3 linked regions of the Homo sapiens genome follow. Changing the gene in region 1 together with any one later gene gives a genetic interaction. Each region holds a gene or a part of one and is shown in the gene's direction. Other genes may lie near its edges. The genes, in order: GLB1L3, FLT3 and SPPL3.

Region 1 (2,998 bases):
GTCTTTATCTCTTATTCATTTTTGAAAGACAGTTTTGCTGGATGTAGTATTCTTGGTTGCCAGTTGATTTTTCTTTTAGCATTTTAAATATATCGGTCCATTCCACGCTAGCCTGCAAGGTTTCTGCTGAAAAATCTGCTGATAGTCTTATACCCTACAAGTTTCTATCAATTTTATCATCATCATCAAAGAATTCAAATATTTTCCAACTTCCTTTGTCATTACTTGTTAGATTTATGGTTTATTTAGAAGTGCTTTTCTTAATTTCCAAGAATTTGGATATTTTAGGGTTATCTTTTTTATCAGTTTCTTTCTTAAATGCATTATAGTCTGAGAAGTTTATGTGAAGACTAGTTTAATACAGGATCAAGCTTGTAAATATTCTGAGGTATACTTGAAAGAATATGTGTATACTGTAGATGTTAGATCAATGTTCTATTATGTCAATTAGTTCAATTTTGTTAATCATCTTCTTTTAAATGTTTTATGTCTTTATTGATTGTTATTTGCTTTGCCTATTGACTATTGAAAGGTTGTATAAAAATTTCCCGCTATGGTTGTAAATTTATTTATTTCTCTTCTGTCAATTTCGCTGATATGTTTTGAATCTCTGCTTTTATCTTTCTTATGTATGTTGTATATACATTTTTGGTAAATTAAGAATTTTACCATCATGAAATGTCCCTCTTTATCTCTAATAATGCTTCTTGCCTTAAAGTATTATTTTTCTGAATATTAACAGAGCTATAGCAACTTCCTTTTGGTTAGGGTTTACATATCATTATCCATTGTTTTTCTTTTATTTTTCCAATGCCTTATGTTTTTGATGCTTCTCTTATATGTAGCATATAACTACTTTATTTGAAATCAAGACCAGCAACCTTTGCCCTTTAATTTGAAGCATTTCAGAGACTCCAATTTTATGTGCTAGACTGTTTTGTTATATCCCAGAATAAGCAGGTGCCTCTAGTGGAAAAACTGCCTAGATGTCTCCTTGTCTCTCCATTTTCTTCTTCTAGATCTTGATCCTGTAATTCTTCATTATATTGCAAGCAGATTTTTAAAAATGTGCAGCTTTTATATTAATAGCCACTGTCAGCAGTGGTGTTCATCACTATTACCTGATATTTATTTCTGGAAGTAGAAGATCTGCTTTTTAAAATATATAACATTATATATCACATAACAGGAACAATAGCAGCCTTACCATTAAAGGGTTGGTTCTATTTATGCTTTTCTCTTTCATTCCTAGACAGCAAGGTAGAAGTTCTATAACATATCCCACTCTAAACTCACCTTCATTTGAGTGCCATAAAGTATCTCAATCTTGCTCTCACTCTCCAAGTGCCTTAGGTTTTACCTTGCTAATGTGAACCAATTTCCAAATCTCAAGCCACCATTCCTTTCAGAACTGGAATTATGGATTTGTGTTCATCAATGGACGTAACCTTGGGCGATATTGGAATATTGGGCCTCAGAAAACACTGTACCTTCCTGGAGTTTGGCTTCATCCAGAAGACAATGAGGTATGTCACTCCAGTCTCTGCCTTGAGATCTCATAAACTTTCAGATCAAAATGTGAGTTGCAGTGTCTTTTTCAACCTGTACTAAATAGGCTTCACCTTTCCCACTGTCAACCTTTCTTTTCTTCTCAGGTCATCTTGTTTGAGAAGATGATGAGTGGCTCAGATATCAAATCTACAGACAAGCCCACGCTGTAAAACTGTGTCTGAACATTTTTTTTTTTTTTTGAGATGGAGTCTCACTTTGTCGCCCAGGCTGGAGTGCAGTGGCACAATCTCTGCTCACTGCAAGCTCAGCCTCTCGGGTTCACGCCATTCTCCTGCCTCAGCCTCCCCAGCAGCTGGGACTACAGGTGCACGCCACCACGCCTGGCTAATTTTTTGTATTTTTAGTAGAGATGGGGTTTCACCAAGTTAGCCAGGATGGTCCCAATCTCCTGACCTTGTGATCTGCTCTCCTCAGCCTCCCAAAGTACTGGGATTACAGGCGTGAGCCACCACTCCCGGCCGTGAACATATTTTTTGGGTTGCTGGAGTTCATCTATAAGTCATTTTTGAGGAATAAGATTTATGTTAAGACTATCAAACACAGTGTTGCCTACAATAGCAAAAATGTGAAAATAACAACAACAACAAAACAGCAGAGGAATTGTTATGTATTTTGTAGTCTATCTATATGATGCCTATTTTTAGGCTTTAAAAAGTCTTCAAAATCTTTAATGACTGATTTATCTAGTTAAATGCTTAATCCTTAGCAGGCTCTTATTCTTTAATTAAACGTGCCTTTGAGTAGATGTGAATAAAATAAAAACAAGTTTCATTTCTGCCTCCCATACTCAATTGAAGGGAAGGGAAAGGTCTGAAGCCTGGGGAAGAGTAAGGATACTGATTTCCTCATGCCAGAGAGAGTATTGCATGTACTAATGGGCAAACTCACGGTCTCCCTCCTCTCTCTCTCTCTCTCTCTCTCTCTCTGTGTATGTGTGTGTGTGTGTGTGTGTGTGCGCGCGCGCGTGCATGTGTGTGTGTGTATGTAGGAGTAGGGGAAAGGAGAGGGCAATGAACAATGTCTTTCATTTCCCTTCAACTATGTGTCTACAAGGTGACCCTGCATGTCACATCTAATCAGAGAAGGAACAGAAATTTGGTCATTTGCTTCAGACACGTGTGACAACAAAGCTAGCGCAGGGTTCTCTGTGTCTTCTTACTCCCTGTCTATCTGGCTATAGTCAAGGCTACTACTGATAGTGGGTAGGCATTAGTGAGATTAGCCACACACACATGAATATTCCAACCACTATGAAAAGCCAGTGGAGCCATTTGAAAAAAATGGCACCATTGGGAACCAAGCACTTTCTTATATACAAAACACAGCACTTGGCCTAAATTCAAACCAATGCACTATAAGCAAATCTTATCACCCTGTTAAATATAGTGCCTAGGGCTTTCAAGTAATTTAGTAAGTAATCTTGTGT
Region 2 (3,655 bases), on another chromosome or scaffold:
GTCTATCTATAGTAAATTATCCTCTTAGGTTTAATTGTGAACTTCTTGCCTTACATTAAAAATGGATTAACTTTTTATAACTAAGAAGGCACTTTCAGTAACTCTTAGCTATTGGTAAATATTTGTTATTGGATTCTCCTGTTGTTTAAACTGAAAAACAATCAGGCAATGAGATATTAAATGGGAAGGAGGAAGACTTACTTATATTCCAAGGGAAGACTTCAGATAAGAAAAATGAAGAGAAAACATGCATTAGGAAGAAAAAATCTGTTTTTATTTAACAAACTTTAATTGAATACCCATTTTTTTCCTTCCTTCCTTCTTTCCTTCCTTCCTTTCTTTCTTTCTTTTTCTTTCTTTCTTTCGACAGTCTCCCTTTGTCATTGAGGCTGGAGTGCAGTGGTGTGATCACAGCTCACTGCAGCTTCAACCTCCTGGGCTCAAGCAAGCCTCCTACCTCAGCCTCCTGAGTACCTGGGACCACAGGCACGTGCCACCACACCTCATTAATTTTTTGAAAAATTTTTTGGTAGAGATGAGATCTCACTGTATTGCTCAGGCTAATCTTGAACTCCTGGGCTCAAGTGATCCTCCCAAAGTGCTAGGATTACAGGTGTGAGCTACCGTGCCTGACAGAATACCTATTTCTTGCTAGGCACAAGCAGTACAAAGATTAAAGAGATGGAGGTAGGGGAACTTGTGTATAAATAACCAATTTTATTTTTTTAAGAAATGTGTGGTCATTGCCTTTCCCCAGGAAAAGTATTTCAGTATGCTTTCTTTTATTAAACCTTCCAACACAGTTATTATGATTACTAAATATACATTAAAAATTGCATGAGTCTGGCTGGGTGCGATGGCTCATGCCTGTAATCCCAGCACTTTGGGAGGCTGAGGCAGGCAGATCACTTGAGGAGTTTGAGACCAGCCTGGCCAACATGGTGAAACCCTGTTTCTACTAAAAATACAAAAGTTAGCCAGGCGTGGTGGCAGACGCTTGTAATCCCAGCTACTTGGGAGGCTGAAGCAGGAGAATCACTTGAGCCTGGGAGGCAGAGGTTGCAGTGAGCCAAGATTGCGCCATTGCACTATACCCTTGGTGACAGAGTGCGACTCCATCTCAAAAAAAAAAAAATTGCATGCGTCAATGAAGGAAGCTTTAGCCTGGTCAGAAAAGGGATCCCAGTTTTTTGCCCCCTAAAACTACTTTTTAAATTTTTTTTGAGACAAGACCTGGCCCTATCACCCAGGCTGGAGTGCAGTGGTACAGTCTCGGCTCACTGCAACCTCTGCCTTACGGACTCAAGCAAGCCTCCTACCTCAACCTCCTGAGTTGTGGGACTACAGGCATGCACCATGACACCCGACTAATTTTTGTATTTTTTGTAGAGATGGGGTTTCACTGTATTGTCTAGGCTGGTCTTGAACTCCTGAGCTCAAGCAATCCTCCTGCCTCAGCCTCCCAAAGTGCTGGGATTACACATGTGAGCCAGTGCGCCCAGCCTAAAACTACTTAAAAATGGAGATATAGTACTGTATTTAATGCTTATGGGAAAGAAAATGCTCTTCCATTTAAAGTAAAAGGAACAAACTGTTCCAAAGCTAAATATGGTCATCTTTTAGGTCTTGGGAAGAAGCACTTTTCCAAATCATTCTTTAAGCAAAGGTATTGACCACATTTTACTCTGGGAGGGTATTCCTGCTCATTTGAGAAGCCCACAAAATGCCTCGGCTTCAACAACATATCCACGGTTCTTTGTGTTCCTCTCATCTCATCCTTGCATGACACTCGGCAAGCAGGGTGACAGTAACTAACCCCTATCATTCAAGTTCAAGATTACAGTCTTGCTGCCTCCCCACATACCTACCAGACATTGCCTTAATCTTTGGGCAAAGATTTTGATTTGACAAAAAGCAAATAATCTCAAGAGTATTGTATTTTATCATTTTTCTTAACTTTGAAAGGGATCTTGTAGATAACAGGAGTAAGAATTTGGAGAGGGGGCCGGGCAAGGTGGCTCATGCCTGTAATCCCAGCACTTTGGGAGGCCAAGGTGGGCAGATCACGAGGTCAAGAGATCAAGACCATCCTGGCCAACGTGATAAAACCCTGTCTCTACTAAAAATACAAAAATTAGCTGGGTGTGGTGGCGCACGCCTGTAGTTCCAGCTACTCAGGAGGCTGAGGCAGGAGAATCACTTGAACCTGGGAGGTGGAGGTTGCAGTGAGCCGAGATCATGCCACTGCATTCCAGCCTGGAGACAGAGCGAGACTCCTTCTCAAAAAAAAAAGAGAGGGGAAACTGAAGGGCTGGAAATTGGCTTAGCTTGGTCTTGACACTGTGCTGTATCCTTTATTCCCTCTGAAATAGCAAATTCTTGTGAACTTCACAGTAGGTGGTTTGTCTGAGTAGAGCTTTTTGGTTTTTTGTTTTTTCTTATATACCCAGACTGCTCACCTGCAAGCTTTTTGGTTTTTATCAGGAGACTTTGTGATCTTAAGATGTTTTTCTATGACTTCCAGAAAAGCTGTATCCACTTCTCAGGTAGTCACAGTTATAGGGTCGAAGATTTTTCTGTCTTTGGGGAATCTGCGAGTTTTATACCTAAGTGATTTAGTTATTCTTGGTTGATACTTTCTATGGCTGCATTATCAGTGGTTTTGAAGTAATGAAAGCTTTTGTAGAAGTCACTACTGGTCACTAATTTGACTCACGCAATTCTGTTCTATGAGTACCAACACATGTGAAGGAAATTTTAAAATAATATAAAAGTAGGCAGAGTGCAGTGGTTCACACCTGTATCCCCAGCACTTTGGGAGGCCTAGGTGGGAGGATCACTGGAGCCCAGGAGTTCAAGACCAGCCTGGGCAATACAGCGAGACCCAGTCTCTACAAAAAAATTTAAAAATTAACTGAGCGTAGAGGCACATGCCTGTAGCCTCAGCTACTCAGGAGGCTGAGATAAGAGGATAGCTTGAGCCCAGGAATTTGAGGCTGCAGTGAGCTACGACCATGCCACTGTACTCTAACGTGGGTGACAGAGCAAGATGCTATCTCTAAAAAAAGAAAAAAGAAAGGAAAAAAATATATAAAGTGCACACAGTGTTCTTTTGTGGCCACAGAAATTGCATAAGATCCTAAAAGAGGAACCATTTTTTTTTAGGTTAAACAGTAAAAAAATATACATTTTTTTACTGCTGTCATTATAAGGTCAATTGGTAGCCAAGAATCTTCCATACAATTATTTACAGTCTATGCTAAAGCAGGCTTTAGTGTATAAGACAGTGTATAAGATAGTCACTGAATTCGGTCTTGGAATATTTTGTTATTTGAGTTATGCTTTTCCTAATGTTTGATATTATGTTCTTGGAGGTAATGCCCATAGATATATTAGGACTAAAAACACATTTAAGAAACGTGCTGTTTTCTGTGGCAGAGAATGTCTCTGCACTTAAGTTCCTCATTTGTAAAAAGGAGATAAGCAGTATCTTACTCCTTCATCAGATAATACTTGTAAAGCACAGCTGCACTCCTTGTTAGGCACGTGTTTTGCAGAAAGAAAAATATATGAAGTCTGAAGACATTAGGATTTGGAGTCACAAGATTTGCCTGCCTCTCTCCTTCCCTCCCTTCTTTTTTAATTCCCTCCCTCC
Region 3 (3,655 bases), on another chromosome or scaffold:
AAGGACTCCTGACCTGGCTCTTCCAGAATGAGGATGGATTTTCCATATGAAGGAGCCGGGGGCAGGACCTTCTGGGTAGAGCGTGAAAAGAACACAGTATGTGTGGAGAGCGGGAAATTGTGTTGAACTGTCTAGAAAACAGAGCCACAGGAATGCGTGTTGAGGGCTTGGGCTGTACAGTGGAGAGTGCCCTCCCTGGCCAGGGAGTTGGACATTCATCCCACCACAAGACCCCATGAAGAGTTTCTCAACAGCTCTGTGTCCTCATCAAACCTGTGTTTGCAGAACAGTGGAGGAAGAGAGCTGAAGGAGGGGAGAGGCCCTGCACCTGCCAGGCCCTGGCCTAGACTACAAGGGTGAGCACTGAGCCATGCTCTCGGGGAACCTTCACTGGAGTTGAGGGCAGTGAGAATGTTTAAAAAAAAGAAGAAATTATGTATATCAGAAGTTGAGAAATGAAAAATAAGACAAGGGCAGGAAGTATGATCTTAAATGTAATTGCAGGAAAGTCCACCTGTCATTGAGAAGCTAGTACTTGCGTGAAGAACTGTGAAAGACGAGGAGCGGAGCCAGTTGGGTTCTGGGAGGAGATCGTTCAGGCAGAGGGCACAGTAAATGCAGAGCACTGAAGCGGCGGCGTGGCCGAAGCGGCGGCATGGGGGGTAGAGTGAGGAGGCTGCTGTGGCTGGCAAAGGAAGTAGCAGGAGGTGACCTGAAGGGTCACCGTCACAGCAGGACCTTGTCAGCCAGTATGAAGACTGTGGCTTTTACTCTATGGGAAGTTGTTTAAGAGTTTTGAGCTAGGGGCCCCATAAAACCTGCCTTAGGGTTTAAGAAGCTGCTTCTGTCTGCACTGTGAAGAAGAGACTTGTTAGGGGTTAAGTTGGAGGCAGAGAGGCCAGGGAGGAGGTCATTGCAGCAATGCACGCCAGGAGAGGATGGCGGCTTAAGCCAGGCAGGGTGTAAAAGAGAGACGGGTCAAAAACGACATCACAGATTTCCGTCTGCACAATTGGAAGCAAAGAGTAAATGCTTGGAGACAGAAGACTGCACTGTTAAGAGCTGAGTTTGGACATGTTAGATTTGAGAGGCCAACTAGACAGCCAAGTATATATGTCTCTTAGGCCACAGGATGTATGAGTCTGGAGCTCCAAGAAGAGATTCAGGCTGGAAATTAAAATGTGTGAGTTGATGACATATAAGATAGATAGTGTCAAGAGCCTTGAGATTGGACGAGATCACTGAGAGAGGAAAAGATCTGAGGAAAGGCCCGTGGAGTTCTGGGAATTGAGGAGGAGCTACAGAGAAGCCTGAAAAGGCCAGTGAGTGGGGAGGAACAGGAGAGCACATTGTCCTGAGAATCAAGGGAAAAGGAGGGAGCCATTAGCTGGGCGGGTTGCTGCCTAAAGGTCGGGTAAGAGGAGGACAGGTCGATTACTGTGTCTAGCAATGAGGGGATCCTTGGCAAGCCCCCAGGAGCAGTGTCAGTGGAGTAGCAGGGATGAAAGCCCTGCTGGAAGTGATCGAGCACTCAAATGATAACATCTAATTTATGGGAAATATATGGGATAGAGGAAAAGCCAACCACTGCAATAGAGAAGCACAGAAAAATCCAGATGACTCCAGTTTCAGCAAGTCATTAAAAAAAGGACTTTAGGCTGGGCATGGTGGCTCACACCTGTAATCCCAGCACTTTGGGAGAACAGGGTGAGAGGATTGCTTGAGATCAGCCTGGGCCACATAGCAAGACCTCATCTCTACAAAAAATACAAAAATTATCCAGGTGTGGTGGCACATGCCGGTGGTCCCAGCTACTCAGGAGGCTGAGTATTGCTTGAGCCCAGGAGGCAGAGGCTGAAGTGAGCCAAGATCGCATGACTGCACTCCAGCCTGGGCAACAGGGCAAGACCCTGTCTCAAAAAAAATAAAAGTGGTGGGGTGGACTATGTCAGATTGGAAACCAGCACAGACAAACCATCTGCAAAAGATGTTTTGGGGTCTATAGAGAAATTTGATTAAATGAGGTGAAAATTCACCCAAATGGAAACTGGGGGTTGTTGGCTTTGGTGGAGGGGGGGAACAGATTGTGTGATCTCATTAGATTAAAAAAAAAAAGTATGTAAAAAATTATTGGCTGGGTGCAGTGGCTCATGCCTGTAATCCCAACACTTTGGGAGGCCAAGGCAGGTGGATCACCTGAGGTCAAGAATTCGAGACCAGCCTGGCCAACATGGTGAAACCCCATCTCTACTAAAAACACAAAAATTAGCTGGGCGTAGTGGTGGGTGCCTGTAATCCCAGCTACTCGGGAGGTTGAGGCAGGAGAATCATTTGAACTCAGGAGACAGAGGTTGCAGTGAGTCGAGATTGTGCCACTGCACTCCAGCCTGGGTGATACAGCGAGACTCCATCTCCAAAAAGAAAAACAAAATTCTAGGAAGATATTGAACAGTGGTAATCTCTGAAAAGTGGGAATGTAATTTTTTTATTTTGCTTTACTGTATTCTCTAGTTTTCTATAACGCAGTTAATGAATTGCTGGGATGATGCCTCCAGTGAATGAAAGGGGGTGCTATCTAGGGTGTGAGTTCACTTTAAAGCAGGGAGCAAGGACAACACATCCACAACATTGGAGGGAAGGCAGGAAAAGAGAGCTTGGAGGTCTTGGACTGGTTTCCTGGGTCTCCAACAGCCGAGCACTATGTCTAGGAGGAGGAAAGCAATCACCCCAAATTCCACAAGTCCAAACAGGCTGAAGAAGCGGGTGTTTTGCACCAGTTGCATGTAAGTTTCTGAAGCTGGAGCTTAGGGCTGCCTGATTTTTGAGGGAATTGCAAACTCTGTGAAGGGCCATAGCTTGTGGAAAGAGGATGAGCCTGGAGTCCACACTGACTGCTGTCTGCTGTACCCTGTCTCCTCCCCAGCACTGGCCATGGGCCTCTGTGTCGCCATGATCGCCTTTGTCCGCCTGCCGAGCCTCAAGGTCTCCTGCCTGCTTCTCTCAGGGCTTCTCATCTATGATGTCTTTTGGGTAAGCGTTTATGTCCTTGGAGCTCCTCCCCTTCTTTGTGTTGAAGTGAAGCATTCATGCCTGAAAACTATTAACTAGAAGTATCCAAAGTCGGGCTTGCCCAGCTGCTGATCACTCTCTCTCCAGTCCTTAACTGTATCATGGGTGTGCAGTCCGATCCTTTTGTTTGCTGAAAAGTCGTACAGTAGGTAGTGTGTGTGTGTGACTCCTAGGATAGAAGAGGTAACAGGCTGACAAGATTCGCTGCAGTGGGGGCCACCCCGTCAGGGAGTAATCTCTGGGTGTGGAGAGTGCAGAAATTGGCAAGTACACAGGAAGAGCAAAGATTTTCTCAAATCATACAGTCAACGAAAGCATTGCAGTCACAGCATTCTGAGACTCTGCTCTTAAGAGCAAGGAGGGCTGATGCTGAAAGCAGGTTGCTTCCAACTCCCTCTGTTAAAGGCATCTCTCCAACTCGGCAGGTATTTTTCTCAGCCTACATCTTCAATAGCAACGTCATGGTGAAGGTGGCCACTCAGCCGGCTGACAATCCCCTTGACGTTCTATCCCGGAAGCTCCACCTGGGGCCCAATGTTGGGCGTGATGTTCCTCGCCTGTCTCTGCCTGGAAAACTGGTCTTCCC

Evidence for each region.
Region 2: changes in GLB1L3 (region 1) and FLT3 together harm fitness less than expected from each alone (positive genetic interaction), as found in Homo sapiens cells (one study listed by BioGRID).
Region 3: changes in GLB1L3 (region 1) and SPPL3 together harm fitness less than expected from each alone (positive genetic interaction), as found in Homo sapiens cells (one large-scale study listed by BioGRID).

What each region holds. Positions count from the first base shown.
Region 1 is NC_000011.10:134,317,222-134,320,219, forward strand, and holds the end of GLB1L3 (beta-galactosidase-1-like protein 3), read left to right. Parts: intron 1-1,409; coding exon 1,410-1,526; coding exon of another isoform or gene 1,527-1,562; exon of another isoform or gene 1,563-1,578; intron 1,579-1,655; coding exon 1,656-1,721; 3' UTR 1,722-2,343; downstream 2,344-2,998.
Region 2 is NC_000013.11:28,093,922-28,097,576, reverse strand, and holds part of FLT3 (receptor-type tyrosine-protein kinase FLT3 precursor), read left to right. Parts: intron 1-3,655. UniProt on the Homo sapiens protein: Tyrosine-protein kinase that acts as a cell-surface receptor for the cytokine FLT3LG and regulates differentiation, proliferation and survival of hematopoietic progenitor cells and of dendritic cells.
Region 3 is NC_000012.12:120,768,328-120,771,982, reverse strand, and holds part of SPPL3 (signal peptide peptidase-like 3), read left to right. Parts: intron 1-2,923; coding exon 2,924-3,030; intron 3,031-3,494; coding exon 3,495-3,655.